Homo sapiens: one gene and its partner. The protein of the gene in region 1 purifies or fractionates together with the protein of each later gene. This does not show direct contact. Each region holds a gene or a part of one and is shown on either strand. Other genes may lie near its edges. The genes, in order: BIN3 and ARHGEF37.

Evidence for each region.
Region 2: the proteins of BIN3 (region 1) and ARHGEF37 purify together in Homo sapiens (affinity purification with mass spectrometry; 3 studies listed by BioGRID and IntAct, with this or other methods). This does not show direct contact.

What each region holds. Positions count from the first base shown.
Region 1 is NC_000008.11:22,661,995-22,677,889, reverse strand, and holds the start of BIN3 (bridging integrator 3), read left to right. Parts: upstream 1-8,768; 5' UTR 8,769-8,838; coding exon 8,839-8,846; intron 8,847-15,895. UniProt on the Homo sapiens protein: Involved in cytokinesis and septation where it has a role in the localization of F-actin.
Region 2 is NC_000005.10:149,574,591-149,589,354, forward strand, and holds the start of ARHGEF37 (rho guanine nucleotide exchange factor 37), read left to right. Parts: upstream 1-6,907; 5' UTR 6,908-7,034; intron 7,035-14,764. UniProt on the Homo sapiens protein: May act as a guanine nucleotide exchange factor (GEF).

The DNA of each region.
Region 1 (15,895 bases):
CCACCGCTTCCTTCCCTGCTGCACCCCACACTGTCCAGGGAAACCCAGAGGTTAGACAGCAAGGTCCAGATTCCCTCTGGGGACAAGAAGCCAGGCTCTGTCCTTGGTTCGCACAACATTCTGGAGCTGGCAGGGCCCTGGACGATCCTTTGTGTACAGCCCGGGCTCTGCGGCTCCCATCTTTGTGCACGCCCTGCACACACATGCAGGCAGCAGCCCTACTCAATTCTCCCACGAGCACACGCTCTCTTGCTCTCCCTCCCCCTTCTCTATTTCTCTCTCTGAGCTGTGCTCCCAGAACACACCCTCCCAGCCCACCAATCCTACACATGCCACTGCGCTTTACAAGCATCAGCTCAAGAATCTCCCAGTTCCCCACTTGCTCCCTCCACTCCATCTCTCCAACTCCTCCACCCGCAAAGGGTGGGCCCTGTCTGCCCACAAGACTAAGATGTCTCAGCTTCTCCAGGCCTGCCTTTGCAGGAAGAGTCTTTGCTGGCTTCCTGCAGCCCCTCATCTCCCTTTCCCTACAGGCAAAAGCAGCCCAAGGCCCCCACAGCCCGGGCAGCCCCTCCCCAGCATCTGGTGAGAGGACAAGAAGAAGGAAGAACTGTGGGTTCTTTTCCTTGAGACTCCTAGATTTTGTACCAAAATGCAGGGTGTGCTCCTGTTTGCATTTTTTTTTTTGTTTCCTTTCTGAAAATAACCATGAAACTATCATTTCCTCCCACTGCCTTTTCCCTATCTTATTTGGATTAGCAGAGTTGCTGCAAGAGGTGGTTTGGAGCCACTGACAGCCTCCTTTCCTGACCTGGGTCCAGGGAACTCATAGGTGGCTTTGGAGCGGGCGCTGCCAGATGGGCGCTGGGTCCTCTGGGATGGCAAGAAGGAGTGCAGGCACTGGGCACCATGGGGTCACCATGACCTCTTCAATTAGAGACCCCTGGGAAACCAGGTTTGAGCCTGCCTTGTGCCCACATTGGTAAATATCGGGAACAACCTCAGGCCTGGCTTTCTTTCTGTAGCTTTTCTGGAATGGGGGGGCAGCAGCTCAGCCCCCTCCCTTGGCTGACAGGTGGGGAAGATGCAATAGATATAGGCTCTCCACGTGGGAAGGGGGCCAATACAGAAGAACTGGTGCTTATACAAGAAGAAAAATGGGGTGCATGGTGAGAGGGGGTGCCTCTCTTCTCCCTTGTTTGTATCCAATGCCTCCTCCCACGCGGCTGTTCCGGGCCTTCATGCTGCTCGCTGAGAAGCAACCTCAAAAGGATCCAGCTTCAGGGTTGGGGGCAGTCAGAGAGACTCCCAAAGAAGCCTGCCTCTTATGCCACCCAAGGGCCTACAGGGCACAGCTTGCTTGAGAAACTGAGCTTCCCTGTAATCCCAGCACTTGCTTGAGAAACTGAGCTTCCCTGTAATCCCAGCACTTTGGGAGTCCGAGCGGGGAGGATCGCTTGAGGCCAGGAGGTCGAAGCTGCAGTAAGCTACGATCACGCCACTGCACTCTAGCCTGGGCAAAGAGCAAGACTCTGTCTCAAAAGGATAAAAAGAAAAACAAAAGAAAGAAAGAAAGAAATGAAGGGGGCAGCAACCCAGGCCTCCCTGCCCTGAGGATAGTTCTTTCATGAGGCCCCCCGCCACAGGCCTTCAACCTCTGAAGCCCACCGCTGCCTGACTTGTTTCTGGTTGAAGAAGACCCCAGGGGAGGGCCCCTCTGCTGGTGCTGCCATCCCTGGGGCCTGGCCAGTTGCAGTTCCATGAAAAGCAAAGGATGGCTGAGGCTGGAAAAGGGGACCACGGACCAAAGTTGCTTGGTCTGACCTTCCTGGCAGAGGGAATTGGTGCCCCCGGGAGCCTTCCTGCCCTTGTTTGGCCTCTCTTCCGTCCTGCTGTGTGCCTTCTTTGGGGATTCCTTCCTGATCAGTCCAGAGGTACAGCAGGCCAGGGCTGGAGGGTTGCAGCCGGCCTGGCCTCAGTGGCACCACTGTCTCCTCCTATCCATCAGTGAGGCCTTCTCCACATGCCCCTCATGCTGGTTACCACCTTTTCACTGTGACCAGATTTGGCATGTGCCCCATCTAATTTCTCTAGGCCAGCCTGCTGCAGCGGAACCTCATCCCTTTCTTTGAGGGTCCTGGCTTGCCCCAAAGGTGCTGGCCTTGGCATGAAATCCTCCCCCAGCCCCCCGTTGTCCTTCCTGACACATCCACACTATGCATCCCTTGGTTCTGCCTCTTCCTTCCCAGCGGGACCCTTCTCCTCCCCCAGGCTGAGCTCCTGGGCTATTTAGGGCACTGCCGGCCTTGTGGTGTAATCAGTGCCCGGGGATAATTGCCACCTGCCCTGCCGGTGTCTGGGGGCTGTCTCCACCACAGCAGCAGGGGGTGGACGCTGGGCAGCCAGGCCTGCAGCAAGGTCAGGCTGGGGCAGTCCTGCCCTCTCCCCAGGCCTGCTGCTCACGCGTGGGACTTGCAAGGATTCCCTAGGAAAGCCATGCGTTCCTAGAAGCTATGCTCACCTGGGACACTCTGTGGCTTCAGATGGGGGTGGATGGCTATCCCAGCCAGGGGACAAAAGTCCTGAGGCTATTCTATGCACCCACACACAGCCCAAACCCTGTTCTTCCATACTACCTTCCGAGGTCAGGGGATACCCCCTGGCTGCTGACCTCTGGACAGAGCAACAACCAAATCAAGAGGGACTTGGATTTGACCTTCAGTCCACCAGGCCTCATCCTCCTCCTTCAAGGAGGCAGCAAGGGCTAATGACTGTGAAAGTGAGTCTACTATAAACGCTAGCTTCCTCCCTTTTTGCTACATTATTTTCTGCTCCAAGGCAGCCTGGGTTTAGACAGCCTGGGTTTAAATGCCTGTCCTTCTCACTTAGCCAATTCTGTGAACTTGGGCAATTAGTTCAGCCTCGGTTTCCTCATCTGTAAAAAGGAGATGATCAGAGGAGCTGCCTCACCAAGTTACTGCAGAATACACGATCTAATACATGTAAAATGCTTCACCCAGTGCCAATGAGACTCTACAATGGTGGGTATTATTATCGGGAACTGCAAAGGGCAGAGAACGGGGGTTGGGAGCATCCATACGCCAGCTCTAGGTTGCCCAGGAACGCAAAGCGGGGCTGAGCGGACAAACCAGAGGCAACCCCAGGACTGGACACTCTCTATGGCAGCTAAGATTCTGGAGGCTGGGAGTGGGGCATCTCACAGACCTTCTCCATCTAGGAGCACCCACTCCCACTCTTTTGACCTCATTTCCTGTAAGGTGGTACCATAAAAGCTTTTTGAGGCCAGAGCACACCAAATACCTGTGACTACTTTATTTTCCAAAGAGAAAGTCAGCAGCAGCAACATCCAGATGAAATACTCTGATCTTGAGAGATGCAGAAATCGAATTATGTTTCTGTCTCTTCCTTTCCTGTTACAGTAAAAAGGTTATTTGTCCTAATGCTTGAAGTTCTTTACACAAATATTCATGGCCCTGTCACTTGAAAGGCCATTCAGATAAATAAATGTCTGCTTTCCAGAGTGAAGCATTTGGGGGTGGGTGGTGAATGGGATGAAGGGGTGGGCCAAAAGACCAGGACTGACAAGGTCAGCCTGCCCCCAAAGCAACCAGGCAACCCAGCACCATTTTCTCCCTGCTTCAGTGCCTTCCCCAGCAGGGCCCAGAGCTCCCACTTCTGACACCTTGCACCAACAGGCTAGACTGGAACCTCAGCTCTCCAGCCCCACCAGCACCAAGGTGGGAGCAAAGAGGGCCGCACTGGGTAGGAACATCAGCCAAAAGTACTAGATACTGCCCCATGGAGATGGAGAAGAAGGGAGAAGGCCAAAGGGTGGGGAGTGGGGCATGAGCACCAACCTCACCTGCCAGGAATGTCTCAACCCCAGGTAGAGCCATGAGGGCCCCAGCTCAAGGCAGCGGCCTTAGCCATACCACAGCCTGGCATGAGCTCCACATCACAGACATCCTGAGCCCCAGCTCAGGAGCTGTGTCTTCAGTGACTTCCTCTGACTTCCCCTTCTGGGTGTGCCCTGGAGCTACCTGGAGGAACAGACCATCCAGACCCAACTCAGAATCTCAGGAGCCTTGGACTCAGTGGTCCTACTGCCAGTTCTCTCCAGTGGGTACCTCCTATTGTGGGTCTGGGGCCATCTTAGAGCCTACCTGTCAGGGGGCAGCCCAGCCTGGACAGCCCTTGGCCTGATGCCCAGGGAACATATCAACCCGGGGGGATTGTTTTCCCTACTGGTGCACTCTCCCTCACTCATGTCTCCTCCTGGTTTCTGTGAGCTAATCAGAGAGAAGGAGGGGGAGGAGGGGGTGCTGCTTGCCTTCCCCGTTATCTGCAGCAATCCACGGTGACTAATGCTCCCAGTTGGTAAAAAGGCAGTGTAATCAAAACACTTTTTTTTTAGTCCTTAAAGTTAGTCATTCTCCCAGAGTGGAGGAAAAAAAAAAAAAAGCCCACAGCAGGCACCACGAGATGCAAGCTGAGAGGCCTGCACTGCTGGGTGGAACCAAAGCATTGGCTGTGGCAGCTCCTGCAGGTCAGAGGCCAGGACTCCTCCTCCTCTGGGTCCTTGGCTATCCTTCCTCCACACCCGCATTTGTTCTTGCTTTCCCCAGCATCTGGGCCTTCTGATCCCTGAAGGACGTCCATGCCATGTGAGGAGCTGCCCTTTCCTGTCACCCTGCCCGGTGCTGCCACCTGCTGGCCTGGCACTCTCCGTACTGGAGGAAGCATATAAAAGCTCCCAGGATGAGGCTGAGCTTGGCACCCTGGTCATAGGGTGGCCCTCCCTCCACCCACAACCTGGCCATTTAGTAGCGGTGCTTCTCCTGGTTCCATCTGTCTGCTGGCTTCTGACCTCACTGTGCCTTGACAGAACCAAAGGTTGTTGGAGGTCAAATGGCAAACTGTAGTGGCAAAAGCATAAGGATCAAAGCCAGGGTGCTCAGGTCAGAAACCCCACTTCACTGCTTCATGAAGCTATACTATTGCTTCATGGCTATACTTCAGCGCCATCATCTGTGAAATGATAATAATGGTAGTATCCACCTCACAGGGTTGAGGCAAGGATTAAATGTGAACTGCAGAGAATAGTGCCTGTCATGTCATGAGTGCTCAATTATTGTTAACTTATAATAAAAATAATAACAATAAAGTGGAATATAAACCATCTCATCGCTCTTTCTTGTCCAAGGCAGACATGACTAATCAATCATAGAACTTCCCCACTGATGGCAGATTCCCCAGAATCCTCAACACTGCATTCCAAGCAGACAATCAGAGTTGGCACATGGGATGATATCCATTCGCCCTCCCAGATCTAACCTGGACCTTTCCCATTGCAGTCAAGGAAAATGAGGCCCAGAGGAGGGACAAGACTCCCTCAAGCCACTTGGAGGCAGAGCCACGGGTCAGACAGGCGTTCCTGGTTCTGCTCGCTTCTTGCTGTCCTGGCTTCTGATGTGTCACTTCACCCTGACCTTTGAGCAGTCCGTGTGGGCCTCCCACCACTGGAAATCTCACCCTGATTTCCTCCTTCTTCTCCCACCCTTGCTCCTCCTCCTATGTCCTTGCCCCCCAAAGGCCCTGGGAAAGCTATTTTTCTGAGACGTCCTACTGAGCAGGTACAGAGTAGGGAGAAGTGGGGCAGTGAGGCCACAGAGAAACCTGAGGCCTGTGTCTGAATATCTGCAGGAGCCTCCCTGAGGAATCAAGACCTTTAGGGCTCCAAGAGAGCTGAGCCCACCAATTTGGCCCTATCACATTCAGTTTTTCAGCCTTAGCCCAGTGCTATAATGAAGTCCCTGACAGCCCAGGTCCAGGTTCTGGGAATGCTCACTCTTCACTAATAAGAGGTTGGCATGGTGAAAGACTCGGGGGCCAGCCCTAGACTTCTGTGTGGGAAAGGCTGGGAGAGACAGGACATGACAATCCCAGAGATGAGAGTCAGTGGGAAGCACCTGCTTACCAACTTCTGAGCAAAAACCTCCAAGGAAAAGTTGGGGGCTGATGGTGGAGCAGGTTCTGCTGCTGCTTTTCCCCTCGTAAACAGCTTTGTCCCAGAAGTAGACCTCTGCCACCTGAACAGTCTTTTACCTTCAGGCTCAGACTTCTGGGGAAGAATCAGTATTTACAAGGCTTGAAACCAGGAGTATCCACCTCTACCCAAAGCGCCTCCACTCTCAGCTTCTACTTAGAAACCCAATTTTCTCTTTTCCATTCCTTCCCTGCAGGGGCAGGATCAATCTGTATCATGCTGTCCCTTTGGTTATAAATAAGAAAGACATAGCTCCCGACCCTGCAGGCTGAGTTTTTCACAACAGTGGGAAGTGTTTGTGTGTCTCCATGTTCAGCTCCCCAGGGATCAATGCCTCATGGCACAGCAGGCTCATGGAGGAACACAGGATAGCAGGATGCCTGACTGTCCCTCCTCAGCCCAGTGCCCCTCTAGCTGAGCGAATGAGCCACAGGTAAGGAGACCAAGCAGGCACATTCCAGACAGACTCCTGGGAGGACACCATTCTTTTTAGTAACCTCAAAGATCCTGCTGGCTGCATTAAAGATTTCGAGGTGACCTGTCAACAGCACAGCCCCAGAAAAATTCATATTTAGCTTTATCCAAGATATCACCAGTTCCTCAGACCTGCCCACTTCTCTGGGCTTGCCCCTCTGTTCACCTGCCTTTCCCATTCTCCTATTTCCCTAGGGCCTCTAGAGTCAACAAGACAGCTGACTTGGAACCTTGCAATGTTGGATACTTTGGGATGTGATCTACCCACTCCATCTTATAGATGAGGGGACTAAGGCCACAAAGGGGATGTGACTTATCTGAGGTCAGTTATAGTGTCAAAGGTTGAACTGGAAATAGAGCCGCAGACTCCTCCAGACTTGTAGTCCAGAACTTATCCATTCTAGTCCTCTAGGATGTGTCTGCTGCCCTCCAGCCCTGAAACAGACTTCTACTAGGATATAGCAGTTACCTAGGCTAAAACGTTTGGAAATATTTATCCCTGTGGGGCATAACTGAGGGAGGCAGAACATGGGGAAGGGAGGAAGCAGGTGGGAAAACTATTCACAGGTGCTAACTGCCAGGAGGCTCCTAAACCCACAACAGCCCTTCCATCCGTCACACTCTCTGCAAAGCAGCAAGGACTCTCTCTTTCCCTTTACCCACACTCTCTGCCCAGGCTACCCTTTGGTGACTTCTGCTCTTCCTCTTTACTCTTCAAGGCTGCTCTTGTGCTCATTTTGGCCTGTTTCCTGAGGAACAACATGGTAATGAAGCTGATCTGCATGATGTGCTTGGGGATCCAACCTCCATTGGAAACGTCAATTGAGTCAAACTATGGACTCTCAAGAATGGAAACAGAAAACACAAATGAGAGACTGCATCCTGTGGCCCACCCTCCTACCTCTCCTGCTCAAGCCCTCTACTCCACCCTAGGAGGTCAAAACAAATCATACACTACTTCTGCTCTAGGTCATTGGTCATATTTTTCCCGCTAGGTCATTGATTAGCAACCCCCTAAGCAGTCCCTGAAACAATCCCGGTCCATCTGAGGAAGGAGAATTCCTAGAGAGAAGGTCACTGGGGGCCCAGCAGCACCTGCACGGGCCTCACTGCCTTCTTGTCTCTCTTCCAAGGCAGGGAGGTACTTAGCGGTGAGGAAACCAAGTCGGCCCAGAATCCCAGGCAACTTGTGAGCCACTAAGGCCCTGAATTCTGACTTTGGGAGACCCGAGGCAAGTCAGCTGCTTGCTTGGTCCTGTCTGTGTCTTAGCCATGGTAAGTTCCCTCTGCCTGGAGCCTCGTCACCCCTCATCTCAGATTCACCTGGCTAGCCCCGATTCTGCCTTCAGGGCTTGGCTTACACACTGGCTCCTCCTGGAAGCCTTCCCCAAAACCCCATGTGCTACTTCAGGGTCCCCTTCTAGGCTGCCACCACACCTCATTCTATCCTATCCTATAGCATGATTATAATTGCCTGCTTGTCTCTCCCTCCAGGAAAGTAGCTCTGGGAAGGAACAAGAGCAGGGCAGATACTTCTCTGAGATAGCTGTATCCTAAGGTTGGCTCGGTACCTGACACTAATATTAGTGCAACTAGTATTAGTTAAATGAAGGAATAGAACGAATGGGGCAATTTACATCATTTGAGTCCTGTAGAGGAGACCAAAGGGAAGGGCTGAAAGGCAGGGAACAACTCATACTCTGCGTCTTATTGTGTTGAATAACTCTAGGAAACATTCCAACCTGAAAAGCACCTATCTATTGATATTCAGAGCCCTGTGCCATCTTGGAAGGGAAACGTCCGTTTGTTTGTAACAGGTAATGCATGTGTGGTGTACAAACTGTAAAAGATAGGAAAGAGCATTCAGAGAATGTAAGTTTTCCACTTTCTCCATCCCAAATGGCTTCTTCTCCCACAGACAATTGCTGCCACTGTCTCTGGATTAGAAACCACTTGACAGAGGGGACAGCCCGGCTAAGGGCCCTGCATGGTCAGGTGAAGAGATCTTTAGGAGTCAGTGTTGAAGGCAGAAAACGCCCCCAGAGGTTCCCCTCATCCCCCGTTGCAGCCTGTGTGTCTAAGCGCTTGGCCAGAGCCAGAGAGTCGCCGGCAAGGGAAACTCCGCGGCGAGCACGCAGCAGCAGAAGGGTTAACGCGCCGGGCTCCGCCTCCCAACCGCCTCTTCCGGGCAGAGAGGCGGGCTTACGTCACTTCCTGGAGACTGGTTGAATCCGGAAGTGACCCTAGAGAAACGAGTTGTGGCTGAGGACCCCGGCGGCAGACGCAGGTTCGGGACCATGAGCTGGTGAGTGAGGCCCAGGCGGCGGGAGCTGCTGGACCCGCGGACCCGCGAGGCCCCTGGCCCTGTGTCAGTGCCGCGTCCCGGCTCCCTCCGGTCCCGCGCGACCCCTCCGCCCCAGAGCAAGGCCCGACAGCCCCTGCCCTAGGGTCGTTCCCTCGGTGCTTTCCGGAGTCGCAGTCTCTCAGCAGGACTCCCGGGGAGAGTGGCGGATGATCCTCTTAGCCTGGGACTCCGCGTCTGACCCGTTTTGCCGGACTCGCGTCCTCCTAGCTCCTTGAAGTGAGGGACTTCCTTGTTCCCTCCTTTTTTAAACACCCATTGAGGTGGAGTCAGTGTCGTCTTTCTCTCCTGTGGGCATCTCTGCCCCGCGCCAGTCCCTCCAGAGCTGTGGCCCTCGCTGTGGCAGCCTGGACCCAGTTCACTAATCAAAACCCACTCCCTTCTGGGTAACTATCCTCTTTGCACGACTTAGCAGGCTTCAAAAGACAAGGAAAACTTGCTTCTCTTTTTAAAGGGGCCAGAATTACACTCCGCACACACCCTTCCACTGTGGGATTGGACTGGTTTTAATCATTCCAGAGCTATTACTCACTGCCTGCCCTCTAAATAGGCATGGTTAAGTTTAAACTTATGGGAACTATCATGCCATGAGAAAAGAAGCCAGGGAGTCTTAGAGTAATAGAGTCACAATTCCAGTTGCTGCAGTATGATGTGATACTTGGGTCATAGTAGACACTTCATAATGGTGTATTTATTTTGTAAGACTCAGTTTGCCCAAAAGGCAATCCCCATTTGTTGCTCTCGATTATTTATGTTCACAGGAGAGAATTGTGACTTGCCTGCCTTCCTGGGGCTTTCTTAGAGGTTAGAGAATACTCATATGCAGCACCTTACCTTACCGTCAGGCCCAAGGACCTATATAGCCACAACCCTGGACCTCAGGGGATTCAACTATAGTGTGTGAATAAATTGAGCCCCAGAGATGTACAAGATTAATCAGCCCATGGACATAGGGAACATATTTGCCACTCTGTCCTCAGAGGCTAGTGTGTTTGTTTATGCAAAGCGCATGATAACCAGTTATGAATGAATTAAGATAACAGAATGTCCTTCAGGAAGGCTTTTGAAGCTTAATTTTGGCCATCAGTGGAGAACGCAAGCAGCTGATATCAGTCAGTGTCAGGGATACTTCTCTAAAGTAAAATGCGAACCATCTGTCCCCTCCCCCACCTGTTTCTTAGACCAAGATTGATGGACAAATGTCAGACAATCACCGCAAGCACGGGAGGAAAGCCTGAAGCAATGTCCTAATAAGCCCCGGCAGGAGCTTCTGCTTTTCCCTCCACCATTTGCTCCAGGAGGCCAATAAGGGGCTGGAGCCTTAAAAAGCTACCTTCCCTGTCTTGTTATAACCTAGTTAGTGGTGGGCAAAGCGGCAATTCTTCAGTTCCCTTTCCCAGAGGAATTACGTCCTTTCAGTGTCATTCTGGGCCCCCCAGTCTTGCAATATAGATATCCTTTTGGCTGCTGCGTCTTGAATCTTTGGAGTGTTCTTACCTAATTTTTCAAAGTGAAAATGAGGCAGTACAGATGCTTTATATTGCCTAGATTGGCCTTTACTGAACCAATCTTTCCTTCACAAGTTGGGAGAAGAGCACAGCAGAAACTAATAAAGGTAAATGATTCTCTGGGTGATCCGAAGCAGGTTGTTTCCACCTGTCTCACAGAAAGTTTCCCTTCTGAAAAAATAGTAGCCCATTCCTTAAAGGTTATCCTGTCAGGTTGGAGAGAATTGAGATTGACAACTGTCTAACAAGAGCTGAGATTTTCATCTAGTAGCTTTAATTTACCAGTACATGCACATCTTGGTATCTCCTTGGACTGAGAGTCACAGCCAGAAGGGTGGCTTTGTCCCTCAAAGCTGAGATTCCTTTCTCTTCCCCCTTAAAGGGCTTCTACGTCATCTCTTGCGTGGACCCTGACCCTGTCTCTCAAAGACGGGAACAGCACCGGCGCCTGGGCACACAATCACACTCAGTTCCTAGCTCAATGGCTGGCAAGGAGACCGGGGCTGGGTCCTTCTGATTCACTCCCTGAGTGGTTTTCCTGCCCCCAGAATGAATCCATCCATTCATGTGAGACTGGAATTCTCATTAGGGGAAGAGACCAGAGTGACGTAGAGCCATCATGGGAGGCTGATGCCCAAGGTCAAGTTCACCAAGTACATGGGCTGTGCCAAGCCATCATTAAATAAGGCACATGGCCCATGGTCCCCAGAGGGTAACCATTGTTCTGGGCTAGGCTGAGCTTTCAAAATGTCACAGTGAGAAATGTCCAATATTGATGCCCTTTGCACACTGTGGACTTTGCATGAAGAGTGAGAGGCCTTTGTTCTCTGCTTCCTCTGTGCAGGCAACCCGCCCACCCCCTGTTTGTTTAGTGGGTACCTGCTGCCTTCCTGCACCATCTACCCATCCACTCCCCATACACCCATCTGCCTTTCAGAAAAGTGACCCGGTGGTCTGTCCTACTAGGAAGAAGGCATTTGATATTCACATCTCAGATCACAGATTCACTTCTTGGCCTCAAGCCAAATGCTTCTCTCTCTCTCGCTCTCTTTTTCTCTCCCATTGTCCACCCCACCTCCCCCCGCCATTTGCCCCCCTCCCAACTTTCTCTCCTCTCCTCCCCACTCACCCCCTCCCTCCCTATTTCTGTCTCCCTCTTGTCTCCCTTTTCCCCTTCCTGTCTCTCTTCCCCATCTTCCAGTGTATACTCAGGTGGCTTTATTATGGTATGGAGAGAGGATTAAGTAGAATTAAGAATAGTGACCTCAATCTAAGCTGGCTCCAGGAATTGTAGCCTCCTGTTGAACCATACACCTTGATGATTTTAGGCTTAAACGAGGAGGAAAAGGGAGTACTGGAAGAAATCTCCCTATACCTAGGGGTCCAGTAGTTTGACAAAAAGGAAGGAAATTAGAGGCAGAGCAGGTAAGTGTGAGTAGGAGTTAGAGTGCTGCGTTCAGGTTCTGGCTCAGCCACTCACAGTGCGGCCTGGTCAAGCATTGAGCTGTTCTCTGTCTTAGTTTCTCCATCTGTAGCATGGAGTGGCCATTCCTGCTGACAATTTGCCACCTGAGCCTGCTGTGAAATGAGTGGAGTGATATTTTTCTGACTCTTCCGGGGTCTTCTACCTCTGTCTGCCCTTCACACTTTGGTGTTCCTCATGTTTGATCCTTTTTGTTTCTTTCCTGTTTTCACCCTGTAGTCCCTTGCCATCATCTTCAGGATAGAGGCCCAACTCTGGGCCAGGGCTTCTGAGGCCCTCTGGGCCTGGCTGTCCATCTTCACTCCGTGTGTTCCATCCTCCAAGCTTCTCCTGCTCTCTCGTGCCCATGTGCCTCTGGATAACTGTCCCTTCTGCCTGAAATGTTTCCCCTTCACTCACACCCTGTCCACTAGGCCAGCATCTACTCATCCTTCAAGAGTCAGGCCACGCTTCACCTTCTCTGAGGGTCTTCCCTGAGTGGCCCCTCACACCCTGCCATGCTGCACTGGGTGCCGCTCTTCTGACCTTCATCAGCATCTGTACTCCGCTGGCTGGTTTACTTGTCTGTGAGTTCTTGAGTATGGGGACTGTCTTGTGGTCATTGCTATTCCCTAGCACTGTTCCTGGCAGTCAGGAAGTGTTTATTAAATATATGAATGGGGCCTTTTTTCCCTTTTCCTGACTTGCCTCAGCTCAGGAAAAATGTTAAGATAAAAACTTGCAGAACCTACAAACCACTTCCTAAAATGAAGAGCCTCTGAAAGTACTATTGTTAAATTGACCGACACAAGTGGCTTCCAGGTCAGGCTGCCTGTGATTTCTCCTCCCCACTCCTTCTGATCCTCCACTCCAAAGTGCTTTGCTGGGTTTCTTCTGTACTTCCATAGTGCTTCTCCTGTAGCACTTCTGCATCCTTCTGAGTATCACAGACGTACACCTCCCTTCCACACCAACCCCATGAGAACAGGAGCGACATAGAGCTTCTTCATCTTTTTGTACGCATAGTGGGTATCATGCACATAGTGGGTATCTAACAGGTAATTGTTAAATGAATGGAATATAAAGAAGGTAAACTTCTGGGTCAAACAAAACCATTATTCAGTTTTTTTCTCAGTGAAGTCCTTTCCCCTATGATTACCGTTGCTGTCTCACATGTGTAGAGTGCTTCTAACTTTTCAGATGGCTTTCCCGTCCTTTGTCTGACTTCATGCTTATGTCTGCGCAAGCAGTGCAGTCTTATGATCCCCCTTGGTAACTTACTAGAATTCACTCAGCTAGTACCTGGAAGAACTAGAACTAAAATGTGTCTCCTGAGTATTCTGTCCCCATGATCAGGAATATTAGAAGAGTAGCAGACCATTCCCAAGCTGATTGGATCACGGAGTTTCACTTTGCTAAGGTGTGTTGACACTAGCAGGTTGGTAGTGAATCACAGGGAGTTGACAGTCTTCACACATAAGTGATAGAGGAAGTCCTTGTGTCCTGCAGACCTCTAGGTGTTCTGTAACTGGCTCAGCTTCTTCCACCTATGGGGCCCCTGCCTAAGGCAGCCTCATCACTCATGTCCTCTGTGACTTTGGACACACCAAGCTTTTCTTCCTCTGTGGAGAGCATAGTAATGCCTTGAAGACAGGGGCCCTATAAAATGTCTGTGAGATTCTGTATGTGAGCTTGCTCTTATTTCAGGCGTTTAATGAGAGGAGAAGGATTTCTTCCAGATCTTGGAGCAGTCAGAAAGAGTCAAGTGTCTTGAGTCCCACAGCTACTTAGTCAGAGGTGTTATATGTATTATACTCTTTAAGGAAATCTGTCGGAGTAAGCTTTAGAGTCAGCTGTTAAACCTATTAGAATTGTTTTCCCAAACTCATGATTTTGGTGGCTAATCCATCAAATAGGGCCCAGTATAGTGTGATGCACATACATGGTGCTCAACAAATATTTGTTGATTTAATGCTTGTTCAACATTTATAATGTGCAAAAGTCTGTGCTAAATGTTGAGGAACATTTAAAAGACTTGCATGAGTCGATCTCTATCTTCAGCCGGTGTATGGAAAGTGCTAGGGATTCAAAAGGACAGCCGATCACTAAATGTCAGTATGGCATCATCAAGAAAGACTTGAAGCAGATGTAATTTTAACTGAACCTTGACTTAGCAAATACGTGCTGTTTCAGTGGGAGGGAGAGAAGGATCCAGGTAAGAAGCATGGCATGAAAAAGGTGTGTGGAGTCAGAATGCGTCAAGAGTGTTTGTGCGGACTGTCAGGAGGCCAGCTTGGAGGTGGTAAGTAGTGGTTTGGGTAGAGGCTGCATTGGGGAGAATTGGCACTCCACCTCAGGGCCACGTTATATAGTGCTTTCAGTGCCATGCTGAGGACTTGAAATTGAGCCTAGGCTTTTGGAAATTGAAGGCTTTTGAGCAGGGAAGTGGCATGGCCAAAGCAATGATTTAGTCAGATTATTTTGGCAGTGGCCTGCAGGATAACTCAGAAGAGAAAAAATGGAGCCAAGGATGCTAACTTGGACAATAGTTTCCTTTTTTTTTTTTTTTTTTTTTTAAACAAATCGGGGGGTCTCACTGTTGCCCAGGCTGGAGTGCAGTAGTGCAATTACAGCTCACCACAGTCTCAAACTCCTGGGCCCAGGCAATCCTTCTGCCTTAGCCTCCTGAGTGGCTGGGACTATAAGTGTTAGCCACCACACCTGGACTAGTTTCCACAATTTTTTGAACACAACTCACAGTTAGAAATACCTTTGATATCACAACTCACACACACACACACACACACACTTATACTTGAAATAAAAGTTTGACACAGTATGTGTGCAATGCACTCTGATATTTTCTATTATGTTCTTGTTCATGGTTTTTCGTTTTTTGAGACAGGCTCTTGCCCTGTTGCCCAGGCTGGAGTGCAGTGGTGCCATCTCAGCTCACTGCAACCTCTACTTCCCGGGTTGAAGCGATTCTCGTGCCTCAGCCTCCCAGATAGCTGGGATTACAGGCATGCACCACCATTTTTTAGTAGAGACTGAGTTTCGCTATGTTAGCCAGGCTGGTTTCTAACCTCTGGATTCAAGTAATCCACCCGTCTTGGCCTCCCAAAGTGCTGGGATTACAAGCATGAGCCACCGCGGCCAGCCTTGTTTGTTTTTTTAAAGAATGACCCACCTCAGTTGACTTTTTTTTTCTTTTTTTCTTCCTGAGGTGAGTGCATATGATTTTTTAATTTCATGACTGATTTTGATCTATGTATATAATGGAAGACTGTGTAGCAGTTTAAATGACCTTTGAGTGATAGATGTTCTGCAAAGACCTCAAGTTTGAAAACCATCTGTCTAAGAGTATCATTACAAATACTCAGACGATAAGCTAACACCTTTGACTCCAGCAACTGAAGATAGGGTTACTTGTGTATTTGGTTGTTTCACTGGGTTAATAAAAAATAACAGAAGGGGCAGCTGTAAAGAACACTGGCTGAGTTCTTTATAAGAACTTATTCCATAGATTTGAAAACTGTCAATTGCTTTCCAGAAAAGAAAACCCAAGTGAACAAAAGCTCATGTAAAGATGTTTGGTCCTATTAGTAATCAGGAAAAACAGATTAAACCAACAATGAGATGCTGTTTCACAGCCATCAGACTGGCAGAAATTTTAAAGCCTGACAATGCCAAGTATCTGAGGGTGAGGAATAGTAGGAATTCACATACACTGCAGGAGGGGGTGTATATTGGAGATTTTGGAGTTGGAACAGTGGCTGTCCCCTACCCTAGAGAAACTCCCATACCTCCATGCAGCAGGGGACACATGCCAGGAGTGTGAGGGGCATCGTCATGTGCAGATGCCCAGCCTCTGGAGAATGGGGAAATAAATTGTGATGTCTTTACATGATGATATGTTATGGGCCGGGCGTGTTGGCTCACGCCTGTAATCCCAGCGCTTTGGGAGGCAGAGGCGGGCAGATCAGTTGAGGTCAGGAGTTCAAGACCAGCCTCACCAACAT
Region 2 (14,764 bases), on another chromosome or scaffold:
TACAACGGATATGCCAGTGACCTCCTAGTCTATATTGCCAGTCCAAACTTCCCTCTCTCAGAACCTTACATCCATCTTCCTGTTGACACCTTCACTTGCATAGCACAGGTATCAGCTAGCCCAAAATTTGTCTCATCCATCGTCCACCTGACTATCCAAGACAGAAATCCCAGAGTCAGCCCAGGTAGTCATCTCCTTACATCCCATAGGTCACCAAATTCTACAGATACTCCATCAAAGTTTTACTCTTACTTTCTCCTCTTCTACCTCACTATCACTGCACCTTAATCTGAGTCTTTGTCTCTCCCTTGGCCGAATACTACAACTTCCTAAATGATTTCTCACCTCAGCCTTATGTCTTCTGGGATCCATTTTCCACTCTCTAGACAGATGATCTTTCTAGAATTAAATAATATTATGCTGTTCTCATTCTTCAATGGCTCCCCCATTACCTACAGATTACATTTAAATTCTTGAGTATGGCACCCATGCCCTCATGATCTGGTGCCTGCTTATGTCTCCAGTCTTGTCTGTCACTGAACAATCCATGCAGATCATTCAATCCACTTATAATGAAGTTCCTGCAGTTTCTGAAAACACAAGCTAGTTTCATATTGTTATGCCTTGTCTGTACTTTCTGTCTGGTATAACTTTTCATTTTCCTGGTAAGAAATGTTTCTTTACAGACTCGGTAGGAAAGGTCACCTTATCTTTGGCTCCCTAATTTCCCTATAGAATTGCCAACTCCCTGTTGTAGCAGACACCGTTGGCTGCCTACCTAAGAGCATTCCTCTTTTTCTTTCCTCTTACCCAATAAGATCCCAGTTTTGTTAAGGCTACATGGCTCTATGCTCAGGGGACTGACCCAGTGATGGGTCTTCATCCCTCTAGGCCAGTGATTGGTTTAGCTATGCACGTGGGATACTATTCTAAGCAATGAGACATGAGGAAGGGTCTGCTAGAGAGCTTCTTCAAGGGGCTTCCTCTCTTGAAAAGACACAAAGTAGAGATGGCCCTTTCTTCTGTTGGACATTGTAGTTTTTGGATAAGTTGGATTTCTGTCACTGCAACCAAATGACTATTTTTTTTTTTTTTTTTTTTTTTTTTTGGAGACAGGGTCTCACTCTGTCGCCCAGGCTGGAGTGCAGTGACGCAATCTCAGCTCACTGCAACCTCTGCCTCCCGGGTTCAAGCAGTTCTCCTGCCTCAGCATCCTAAGTAGCTGGGCAGATTGCTTGAGCTCAGGGAGTTTGAGACTAGCCTGGGCAACAAGGTGAACCCCCTGCCGTCCCCCCCCTCAAAAAATACAAAAAATTAGCTGGGCGTGTTGGCACCTGGCTAAGTGGTGGTTTTCAATACAAAATGTAAAACAGGGCCAGGCACAGTGGCTCATGCCTGTAATCCCAGCACTTTGGGAGGCCGAGGTGGGCAGATCACCTGAAGTCAGGAGTTCCAGACCAGCCTGGCCAAAGTGGTGAAACCCCATCTCTACTGAAAATACAAAATTAGCTGGGCCTGGTGGCACATGCCTGTAATCCCAGCTGCTCTGGATGCCTAGGCATGAGAATCTCCTGAGCCTGGGAAGCGGAAGTTGCAGTGAGCCAACATCATGCCATTGCACTCCACCCTGAGTGACAAAGCGAGACTCCGTCTCAAAAGCAAACAAATAAACAAAGAAATTGTAAAATAGGCCCAGAGAGGGTATGAGATGCTGGAAGAAATGCAGGCTTTGAAGTCATACTTCTGAGGTTTCAGTCCCAGTTCTGTCATTTCCTGGTAGTGAGGCCTGTGTGAGCTTCTGAATCTCTCAAAATGTCAGTTTTCTCATTTGTAGAAAGAAGATGGTAACACTTATCTTTTAGTATCATCTAGCAGAATGCCTGGCTTATAGGCTCAATAAAGCAGACAGTCTTGTTATAAAAATTATTATACATTAGTAATGAGGCTACTAAATTTGTCTGTTATGTGATAAACGTTTAGCCACCATAACATAAATTTGTCTGTTATGTGATAAATGTGTGAGCCACCACGCCCGGCCAACCAATAATTTCTTGACTTGTCTTTCTTACAGATTGATATCTCAGGGCCGTGCATGGTGGCTCACACCTGTAATCCCAGCACTTTGGGAGGCAAGGCAGGTGGATCACCTGAGGTCAGGAGTTTAAGACCAGCCTGGCCAACATGGTGAAAACCCATCTCTACTAAAAATACAAAAATTAGCCAGGCCTGGTGGTGTACAACTATAATCCCAGCTACTAGGGAGGCCAAGGCAGGAGAATCTCTTGAACCTGGGAGGCAGAGGTTGCAGTGAGCCGAGATCGTGCCACTGCACTCCAGACTGGGCAACAGAGTGAGAGACTCTGTCTGAAAAAAAAAATTGATATCTCAGGAGACAGAAGAAATAATTCTCAAAACTTACGTTCTAGACTTAGTAGAATACACTTTTTACACGGTTATAGAGATCTTTGCAGAAAGCAACCACACGAGAAACACTGTGGTATAGTAGTAGACTTGGCTTCAAATCCCAGTCACCTATGAGCTATATAATCTTGGACAACTTACTTAATCTTTCTGAGCCTCAATTTCATCATCTGTAAGATGCAAATAATATCTATCATAGGATGATTGTCAGGATTAGAAACAATCTATGAAACATTACTGACATGTATTAGGCACTCAATAAGTAGCACCTGTTTTCATTATTACTATGGAAAGAGTGGTAGATTTCACAAAGTAGAATAAAAAATTAGATATGATCCCAAGACTGAGACTCTAAAAGAGGTAGACAGCTTTTAAAAAATTTATCAGAAAAATGTATTTACTTGACTCATAGCATTGCGCGTATTGTGGTGCTAAGTACACATTTGGCACAACTTACCTCTTTCTTCTCAACCTTCTTTTGCTTACCTCTGGAACAGCAAGTGATTCTAATGATTAAAAAAAATGGTATGGGAAGAAAGTATTAGTGCTATAAAGAAGTTCTCTGATTAGCTAAACTTATAAAAGGTTGAGAAACAAACATAACACCCACTTCTCCAGGTTTGGAGCATTCAGCTCAGTTGCTGTATTAAGTACATTATGCAGATTATGTTCTTCAATTCTTTTAGTTTGGGGCCTACCAATTATTAGAAGATGACTTCCATGTGGACATTTGTCATTTTCCTGGCTGCCCAGCCTTCATGTTACCATTATACATTTGGGAAACAGGACATTGTGTAAAGCAGGGCCCTGGATCTCATTCATGGAAGCCAAAAGGCCTTGGTATCAGTTTTCTCTGATTATGATTCTGGAAAGAAGAATGAAGAGAAGCAGGCAATGTGTAAAGTTTATTCAGTAAATTTTAGTGAATTTCAGTGGTGGTGACATTCAGTAGCCGGTAACAGTAATGGCAGCTAGGTGATCTATGGCATCCAGTCCCCAGGACCAGAGCCTGAATGGCAGGGCCAGTGGCATTGCCAGTGTCCAGCAGAAACATCTTTCCTCTGGCATGGTCTCCTCTGTGGATCTGGCCACCTGGCCTCCCACAGCGCCTGTCTATATTACTAATCCAGTTCTCTAGCCTTTCTACTGATTCTTTGAGCTCCCAAATACTCTTCCAAGAAATTCCTTTTCTGCTTTGGTTAACCAGAATCAGCTTTTGTCGCTTGCAACCATGGACTCTGGCTAGTAACTAGTCTTTAGGTAATGTGCAACCCAAAAGACTCCAGTGCTGCTTACTTTAGTAAAAATCCCTTAATAAAGTCATGGTCAAATTTGCAACTGGTCTAGGAGTTCTGTCAGGGCTCCCTTTAAGGCCCATACACCTCAGGCAAAAGAAGAAATACCAAGGAAAGGGGCTGTTGTCTCTTGACTCTCAAATGTCTGCTGCCCCACCCTAATCCACCTCTTTGCCTCCTACAATGTCTTCACACTCACTTATCCACCCATTCAACAAACACTTATTCAGCACCTACTATGCACAAGGCATTATGGCAGGCAATAAGAGGAATCTAAAGATCAATAAGCTAACCCTGACAGTATACTTTTGAATTTTGAACTGGCACATGTATTTTCTTTTCAAAATACATAAAATTTAAAAATGGATCACTCTGTCAAAGGTAGAAGTGAAAGCGAACCCTTTTTTCTTTGGATTAGTGTCACCGAGGGCAAGGTGATGTCCATTTCTTTGTAAATGTTCTAGAAATCAAATGGATTCCTTTGTTAGAGGTTTCCAGTCAAAAGCAAACATCTCTCCAGAAGACTGAGAAAATAATGCCCCTTCTAAAGTCAACAAGTAGATTGCCGCTCTTCAAAATCTGTGTGACTAGGGTGAAAGATGGTGGAATTAGTGGCAGTGCATTAGAAATGCCACTCAAAATAACTGAGTCCTAAAATAGAATCAGAGAAACATCAGTTTCAAATGAAAAATATTATCCAGCTTATTTTGGTCTCCTTAAATTGCCAAGTAAATACTTGGGATCCTATAATACAGCAGCTGCCCCGGGGAGTGTTGACACTTACGTCTAAAACCACAGAATACTCAAGCAAGGAAGATGGGCACACATTACAAGTGCAAAGTATTCCATCACGTACTTCTGAAAAAAAGCGCAAAGTAAAACATGTAAAGCAGATGATTTCACACATTCAGGAAAAACTGGTCAGGCACATACACACTTTACAGGAGTGTGAACTGAGGCGTTGAGCACTCACAAGACCCTCACCTGGAAACAATCAGGAAGTCTGATCTAGGAATCAGTCTCAGCTTTGGGGTCAGCTCTTCACTTCCCGGCTGACTTTGGACAAGCCACTTAGCCACTCTAAGACTCACTTAGTTTCTTTATCAGTAGGTTAGAATAGACAAAATATCAAAATTGAAGAGAACCTTAGAGATCACCTCAATCAGTTTTTAACTTGTACCAGACTTTTCTTTGAAGCATCCCTAATAAGCTTCTCTGCTTGAATGTTTACTTTTAGTGACAGGATATGCTCTCCAGGCAACTGATGTTATTATTATTATTATTATTATTTTTGGGACAGAGTCTCACTCTGTCGCCCAGGCTGGAGTGCAGTGGTGTAATCTTGGCTCACTGCAACCTCTGCCTCCAGTGCTCAAGCAATTCTTCTGTCTCAGTCTCCTGAGTAGCTGGGATTACAGGTGCCCACCACCATGCCCAGCTAATTTTTGTATTTTTAGTAGAGACGGGGTTTCAACATGTTGGCCAGGCTGGCCTCGAACTCCTGACCTCAAGTGATCTACCCTCCTTGGCCTCCCAAAGTGCCAAAGGGATTACAGGCGTGAACCACCGTGCCCCGCCAACTGATGTTATTTTTGAAATACTCAAATTGTTAGAAAAGTTCTTCCTTACATTTTAAATTGCAATGCATCTCCTTACAGCTTTCTGCATCCTGGTGGCCTCTAAGATCATACAGGTTAGGTCTAATCCATAGGGCTACTTTTTTGAAAAGTCCTCAGCTTCCCTTGCTTTTCTTTTTTCTTTCTTTTCTTTTTCGAGACGGAGTCTCGCTCTGTCACCAGGCTGGAGTTCAGTGGCGTGATCTCAGCTCACTGCAACCTCCGCCTCCAGGATTCAAGTGATTCTCCTGCCTCAGCCTCCCAAGCAGCTGGGATTACAGGTGTGCACCACCACGCCCAGCTAATTTTTCTATTTTTGGTAGAGATGGGATTTCACTATGTTGGCCAGGATGGTCTCGATCTCTTGACCTCGTGATCTGCCCCCCCCTCAGCTTCCCAAAGTCCTGGGATTACAGCCGTGAGCCACCGCGCCCGGCACCCTTGGTTTTTCTCTTCTGCAAGCTATACCACCCCTCTCCCCTTCAGTTGCCCTCATCTGTCACATTCAAGAGGAGACACTTTTCTGGTTTTCATGTTTTTCTGAGTGTAGAGTGGTGGTTAAGCAGCCTGAACCCTCAGATAGTCTGAATTCGAATACTGGCACTGTCACTTAGTAGTTGTGTGTCATGGGCAAGTTATTTTCACCTCTGTAGCTTAAGTTTCTCTCTCTTGAAAATGAGGATAATAATAATGATACCTATCTCTTAGAGAAATTGTGAATGAGATAATTGAGACAGTACAAGTAAAACATTTAGTATAGCGCCTGGCCCTTAGTAAGCAATATGACTACTACCAGCAGTAATAATAAATAATAAGCCCTAAATTAAGCCCTAAAAATGAAAATAAGAATAAAAGAAGTGGCAGAATGAGAAAAGCTAATCTAGTCCATTCCTGACGCTACAAACAAGGTTTGGTTGCCCCGATATGAAACTTTACATGCGTTTCATAGCAACTATCACTTTCAATGGTGGGTTTAGTGTCTTGCACAGGAGCCCAATAAGGCCAGGACCTTGTCTATCGTGTTAACTGTTGTGTTCTCTGTGCCCAGAACAGTGTCTTGCTCCCAGTAGAGTGAAAGAATGGACCAACACCGTCATGTCATGGAAGCGACTGGCCGACTTGGCTAAGGTTGTGCAGGGCTCCCAGGAGAGCTGGGGCAAGAACCAAGGGCTCCTCGGCAGCCAACACTAAGAATTAAATTGAGGCCCAGCCCTACAGTTTGGTGATTCGGGCAGGAGCAAAGGTATCCAGTAATACCGGGGTCAGCATTCCCACCGGGTGGCCTAAATGCCGGCTCCTGTTTTCTGGATGACGAGCCCGCGGAGAAGGTGGCTTAATGAGAGGCCGCGGGAGGGTGGGTGCCGGCACGTCGCTAAACTCCGCCTGCAATCCTTCGGGTTGGCTGCCAGCCAGGGCACGGTTCCGAGCCGGCCGGGGCTGACTCCGGGAGCAGCGAACAGAAAACAACCTGGCTCCAGAAAGACAATTAACAAAGGCTGGAGACCAGCCACCCCCTCGCGGCGCACGCACGCAGGCAGCTGCGTGGGCATAGCCGCGCCCGCCAGCGCCCTCGGTGGGCACAGCCACCCGGAGCGGCGCGGGTGCCGGGAGCTGGGCGACGCGCCCCTCCTGCCCCGGCTGCGCTGTTGCCCGGGCGGCCGACCTCCGTGCGTGAGCGCCGGCAGGCACCTTGCGCGCGCGGGTGAGTCCGCTGGGCGTTTGGGGCCTGGTCAAGCAGGATGGGGCTGGAGAGGGGTGCAGGAAACAGCTGCTGGGAGGATCAGAAAAGGGAGGTGGGACAGAAAGGCAGGATGCGACGACCTCCCGGGTCCCAACTTGCTTGGTAGCTAGCTTTGTGTCTTGAGCCTTATGAGAATGTAAGCCACCTGGTCCATATGGCCTACCCTAGTCGTTTTACAGGTGGGAAACTGAGGCCCAGGGAGGTTAGCCGGCCTGGAAAAACATTATTATTCTTTGTTCCTGTTTCTCTCTGCCTTCTTCCGTGCAGGATTTCAGACAGCTTTTAGAAAGAATGCATACATTATAACAACGGAAAAATACAAACAATGGTAAAGAATCCTTGCCAAGCAAAATATAATTATGAATAGACAGTCAAGGCCAGGAAAAAAGAGAACAGAAATCCGTGATCCATAGGTGAGGTGACTTGGCTAAGGTCCCTCAGAAAAGTCGTGCCAAAGCTGGGACTAGAAGTCAGAACGTCCGGCTTCTGAACGCCAGAAACTTACAGTGGGGAAGCAGACAGCCTGCCCAGGCACTGGTTCTTAACCTTCTGGGGGTCCCTGACCCCTTAGAGATCTGTGTCCACTCCCAGCAGAAGGGTTCACACAAAGCCTTGTGCACAGTTTGAGATTTGACATGAATTCCTGCTGTAAGGAATGCCTGCAGGCTGCTACTCAGGCAGGGTGGTTTCAGAGCACTTTCTTTGCTCCTTTGAAGGGAGGCAGCTGGTGGAGGAGTACCTGCTGTGCGTCCAGACAGCCAGCTGTGTGATCCAGGAAGCATAGTTTAACCTTTTCAAGGCCTAGTTTTATGTGTAGACGGGGGATGAGAGTGTCTGCTTCATCCTCCAGGTTATTGTCAGACTTAAGAATGAACATAAAGGCTAGTGCTTGACATAATATATGCTCAATAAAAGTGCTGACGATTATAGGGTGACTATAGTTTACAATAATCTATTGTATATTTCAAAATAGCTAGAAGAGAATAATTTGAATGGTTCTAGCATAAAGACAAATATTTAAAGTGATGGATATCCCAAGTACACTGATTTGATCTTTATAAATATATTAAAGTATCACAGGTACCCTGAAACTATGTACATCTATTATGTACACAGTTTAAAATTTAATTTAATTAATTAAAAAAAAAAGTGATGACACACAAAATCATCAAAGCTGTGGGAATTAGGAAAGGGTGATGACCTGGAAGAAATTGGGCTGTATCTGAAATAAAATACAATTTAAAAAATTATAAACATGAAAAAATAAAGTCAGCCCTATTATGACTTACAGACCACACCACATACCTTCGTGATGGTATCCTAAATAAGGGTGCAGCAAGGTACTACCCTCAATATTTGACTCCAAGTCAAAAGCTGAAAGTAGAAACTACCAGATACTGTAACAAGGAGTGTTTACTGGGCTTCACTTGCCTCTTTCAAATGGGGTCAACACCCCGTTTTTTTGTTGTTGTTTTTTCTTTGTTTGTTTGTTTTAGACGAAGTCTCGCTGTCTCCCAGGCTGGAGTGCAATGGCACAATCTTGGTTCACTGCAACCTCCGCCTCCCGGGTTCAAGCAATTCTCCTGCCTCAGCCTCCCAAGTAGCTGGGACTACAGGCACACGCCACTATGCCCGGTTAATTTTTTGTATTTTAGTAGAGATGGGGTTTCACCGTGTTGCCCAGGCTGATTGCAAACTCCTGAGCTCAGGCAATTGCCTACCTCGGCCTCCCAAAGTGCTGGGATTACAGGCGTGAGCCACTGTGCCTGGCCTATAGAGTTTGTTTTTAAATGAGAGGAAAGAGGACATAAACTGGGACCTGAGCAGCACCCACCCTTATTCAGCAATAGAGCCTCAGCTGAATTTCTGCCAGGGAATAGGAGTTGCTGGCAGTTGGCTCACATCCCTCTTGGATCAGCAGATTACTGTGGTAAACAGTGCCTTGGCTGATTCTGCCCTAGATCAAATAAATGGCTTTTTATTTAACTAATGAGGTAGGGAATGTGTTTTCATGTGCTGTAACAGAAGCAAAATGGCATTTGTAGAGCTTGACTGTCCAAAGCCTATTGCTTGTTTATTAATAGGCTGAAGAATTTGTTTATTTGTTTGTTTATTTAGAGACAGGGTCTCCTCTGTCACCCAGGCTGAGTGCAGTGATGCAGTCACAACTCACTGCAGCCTCAACCGCCCAGGTTCAAGCAATCCTCCTGCCTCAGCCTTCTGAGTAGCTGGGACTACAGGCATATGCCACCACACCTGGCTAATTTTTTACTTTTTGTAGACACGGGGTCTTGCTATATTGCCCACGCTGGTCATGAACTCCTGGATGCCAGTGATCCTCCCACCTCAGCCTCCCAAAGTGCTGGGATTACAGGCATGAGCCACTGTGCCCAGAGAATTTTATAATTCTAATAATTGTTATTATTTTCTTAATTCCCTAATACTGGAAGGCTCAAGAACTTTAAATCTATGGATCCAAACTTGTGATGACAGAGCCTGGGCAGACTCACTTATCTATAAAAATAACTGCTTTAAAAAAAAACTGTGTTGTCTCCTTCCTCTTTTGGAAGACCTTTTTAGGCCTTCCAAATAGAACTGGGGAAATATGGCTAAGGACAAACAGCTGCTGTTTGATTTGGGTTAAGACACATACCACCTGTCCTTTCCATGTATTTATAAAGGGGAGTTTTTCCTCCAGGAAAGAGAGAGAGAATGTGTATGTCTGTCTGCGTATGGGAGAGGGGATGTCTGTTGCTGTCTTTCCGCCTCACTTCCAATCATTTATTTATCAACACAGAGAAGTCCTTTTCTGTAAGCACAGTGACTTGGAAAATTCCTTCCCTTTTTGGCTCTGTGGCTCTATTTTGTTTCACAGTAGTTTCTAAAATATTGGGATGTTTTTTCTAATTTTGACTATAAACTGTTCTTTATATGTTTCTTTTCTTTTTCTTTTTTTTTTCTCTTGAGATGGAGTCTCGCTCTGTCGCCCAGGCTGGAGTGCAATGGCATGATCTCTGCTTACAATAACCTCCACCTCCTGGGTTCAAGTGATTCTCCTGCCTCAGCCTCCTGAGTAGCTGGGATTGTAGCTGGGATTACAGGCATGTGCCACCACTTCTGGCTAATTTTTGTATTTTTAGTAGAGACAGGGTTTCACCATGTTGGCCAGGCTGGTCTTGAACTCCTGAGCTCAGATGATCTGCCTGCCTTGGCCTCCCAAAGTGCTAGGATTACAGGCATGAGCCACCATGCCCGGCCTTCTTTATATGTTTCTATATTGTTTATTTAGTTATATAATGAGCAAGAGCCTCTTTCATTATTTAAACAATTTTTCTAAATGTTGTCCAAAGAATATATATGGGTGGCAAATAACCACTTGAAAAGATACTCAAGATCATTACTCATTAGGGAAATGCACATTAAAACCACAGTGAAATATCACTTCATAACTATTAGGATGGCTAAAATGAAAAGATTGGCTCTACCAGATGTTGACCAGAAGGTAGAGGAACTGGATCTCTTATATACCATTGGTTGCAATGTAAAATGGTACAACTACTTTCAAAAAGATCTTAGTTAAATACACACTTAACTTATAAAGTTAAATATACACTTATCATGTTATCCGGAAACTTCACTCCTAGGTCCAGCTTTATTGTAATAGTGAAACGGGAAACAAACAGTTGTTTATTCAGTGTGTGAAGAGACAAATTGTGGTATATCCATATAACAGAATTCTGCTAAGCAATGGAAAGTAACGATGTATTGATACATGCTTCCATACGAATGGATCTCAAAATAATTTTTCTGAAAGAAAGCCCCAGGCAAAAAACACTACATAGTGCATACTGTATTATTTATTTATTTATTTAGAGACGGATTCTTGCTCTGTTGCCCAGGCTGGAGTGCAGTGGCGTGATCTTGGCTCACTGCAACCTCCGCCTCCTGGGTTCTAGCGAGTCTCCTGCCTCAGCCTCCCAAGTAGCTGGGATTACAGGTGTCTGCCACCACGCCCAGCTAATTTTTTGTATTTTTAGTAGAGACAGGATTTCATCATGTTGGCCAGGCTGGTCTCGAACTCCTGACCTCAAGTGATCCGCCTGCCTTGGCCTTCCAAAGTGCTCGGATTACAAGTGTGAGCCACTGTGCCTGGCCTGTATTTTTCATTTTACATAAAATTCAAAGGGAGTTGCTATTCCATACCTGAACTCAAACTTTTTGGTGGCTTCCAAGAAGAACCAAGAGTTGTGTATGACCATATCAGTCTAACTCCAGTTGCAACAATGTCATTGACAATTTGATATTTATTCTGCCAGTGTTTGCCCATGTCTTTCATTCATTAATTCAATTAATTGAGCACCAACTAAATGCTAGATCTAGAGTAAACACTAGGTAATGCACTGATGAATAATAGACACATGATCCCTGCCCTCATGGAGTTTCCATTATTTTGAATGAAACTCTGAGTCATACAACAAATAGAATAAACAAAATAATTATCATGGGAAAGGAGTGGTTCTTTTGAAGTGTGATGGAAATCAGTGATAGACTTGTCTGGGTTTCAAGCAGAGAAGTAAAGTGACAAATTTTATGTTTTTCTGTTTTTTGTTTTTGTTTTTGAGATGGAGTCTTGCTCTGTTGCTCAGGTTGTGCAGTGGCACAATCTCAGCTCACTGCAACTTCTGCCTCCCAGTTTCAAGTGATTCTCCTGCCTCAGCCTCCCGAGCTGGGACTACAGGCATGCACCACCATGCCTGGCTAATTTTTCTTTTAATTTTCAGTAGAGATGGGTTTTCACCATGTTGGCCAGGCTGGTCTCGAACTCCTGACCTCAGGTGATCCACCTGCCTCGGCCTCCCGAAGTGCCGGGATTACAGGTGTGATCCACCATGCCCAGCCCAATTTTATGTTTTTGAAAGACCACTCCACTCTGATGCTGTGTATCCAGTCAGGAAGCTGTTGTACCAGTCCAGGAGAAAGGTGGTGGAGGTTTAGACCCAGATGGTCTCAGAGTTGGAAAGCACAAATTAGTAGATATCTTTAATAAAACAAAACAGAGCCCAGAGGTGGACACTGATCAACACTCTTTGAATTTAGTAGTTTTATCACTTTTTAGTCCTTATTACTGTCCTGTCTCTGCCCTCTACACCAGCCTCCACCACTGCCTCTTATTCCATACATGTAAGTATGTCACAAGAGACTGACAACACCTTCCTGGTCCAGATACACTGGACTACAGCATTCCTTTGATCTACTGATCTAGTTGACTGTCAGTAAGAGAATGAGGAAACTCTGGCATGACCAGTTTTTATTAAATTAGCCTATGCTGACTCCAGATGATCTCTGTTTCCCTTTCTAAGGGCTAATGAACTATTTGTTGTAATCAAGTGGCAGAAATCCAGCTCAGAGTGGCTTAGGGAAAAGGGGGATGAGGAATAAAAATGTATTCACTCATATGAAAAAGGCAATCAGTCTCTATCATGGCTGAAATGAGTCATGCCATCATTTCAGTCTCTCTCTCAGTCTCTCAGCTCTGTTTCTATGGTATTAGTCTTATTCTCAGTAAGGCTCTGATATATAGTTCTTCTTATTACTATGATTAGCTGTTTATGGCACCTGCTTAAATATTATGCATCTAGATCGGCCATGTGTCTTTAGACAACTTCATACATCTGATCAATGGTAATGCTACCCTTTCCATCTTAACAATAATAGAAGCAAAAAACCACAGCTACTATAATTGAGAGTTTACCATGTACCAGGCACTCTATTAAATATTTTACTTGGATTATCTTAGGAAATCTTATAACAACCCTGTAAGAAAGGTTATATAAATATCCTAGGAAAGCCAGCTAATGGATTGCAGAATCAGCATTTGAAATGACATTTTTCTGGCTCCAGGGCCTGGGCTCCTAACCTTCACCACACCTCTCACAATCAATCTTTAGGACTAAGAAGAGGAAAGCACTGCCACCAAATAGTGTGCCTCTCTCTTACTTTTTCTGAACATCAGTCTTAAAATATGCTTGGTAGTGATAGTAGGGATGGGACTTTGGAAGTTATCCTTATAATTTTGTTGATTCCAGCTCTTTTGGGGGTTTTAGAGTTCTGGAAGCTCTTTGTACAGGATCCTCCCTTCTGACTATGGTGTCTATCTTTATAAACCAGGCTTGGTAGCCAGGGTCCCTATGTGCACATTCTTGTTTCTGTAGGTCTTCCCTCCCTTTAGTCTTTTTTTTTTTTTTTTTTTGGAGACAAAGTCTCACTCTGTCGCCCAGGCTGGAGTGCAGTGGCATGATCTCAGCTCAGTGCAACCTCCGCCTCCTGGGTTCAAGCGATTCTCCTGCCTCAGCCTCCTGAGTAGCTGGGATTACAGGCGTGTGCCACCACTCCTGGTTAATTTTTTTGTATTGTTAGTAGAGACAGGGTTTCACCATGTTGGTCAGGCTGGTCCTGAACTCCTGACCCCGTGATCTGCCCGCCTTGGCCTCCCAAAGTGCTGGGATTACAGGCGTGAGCCACGGTGCCCGGCCTTTTTGTTTGTTTGTTTGTTTGTTTGTTTGTTTGCTTTGAGACAGAATCTTGCTCTGTCAGATTTTCTTTCTTACAGGGTTGTTATAAGATTTCTTAAGATAATCCAAGTAAAATATTTAATAGAGTGCCTGCACTCCATGCCAGGCTGGAGTGCAGTGGCATGATCTCAGCTCACAGCAACCTCTGCCTCCAAGGTTCAAGCAATTTTTGTGTCTCAGCCACCCAAGTAGCTGAGATTACAGGCGTGTGCTACCACGCCTGGCTAAGTTTTCATATTTTTTAGCAGAGATGGGGTTTTGCCATGTTGGCCAGGCTGGTCTCGAACTCCTGGCCTCATGTGATCTGCCCGCCTGACCTTCCAAAGTGCTGGGATTATGGGCATGAGCCACCATGCCCGGCCCCTTTATTCTTCAACAGGGTCCTTTGCTCTCATGATGTCTGAGCTTCACCTTTGACAGCTTTCTATGAACCATTCCTGGAGTCTGAGACCAGATTGTTTTCCTTTTTCCCCCCTTCCTTAAATGTTTAAATGGGCTCCTCCTGGGAGTAAGAAAGGGAAAGAAAAAAAATTAAAAATAAATAAATAAAATGGCTCCCCTTTAAAGCCTTGGGCAGCTAGCTGATGGATCCTCAACTTTCCCTGCCCAGACATTTTATCTTCTGAAAGAACTTTCAAATGATAATTTCACTTTCCCCAGGGATCAGCTTAGTTCCATTTTTCCATTCAGTTCCTCCAATTGGTCAAAACTAGGCCAGGCTCAGTGGCTCATGCCTGTTATCCCAGTGCACTAGGAGGCCAAGATGAGAGGATCACTTGAGGCCAGGAGTTAGAGACCAGCCTCGGAAACAAGTGAGACCCTGTCTCTACAAAAAGTTAGAAAATTAGCTGGGTATGGTGGCACATGTCTGTAGTCCCAGCTATGTGGGAGGATTGCTTGAGCCCAGGATTGCATCACTGTGCTCCAGCCCTGGGTGACAGAGTGAGATCCTGTCTCTTAAAAAAAAAAAAAGTTTTGAATATTGTTTCCTCTTGTTACTTTTCTCTCTTGAAAGGGATTAAATAATCAGGATGCCCATATCATTTTTTAAAAGTTTTATTATGTTTTTAATTGACACATAATGTTTTATTAATTAATTAATTAATTTATAAGACAGGA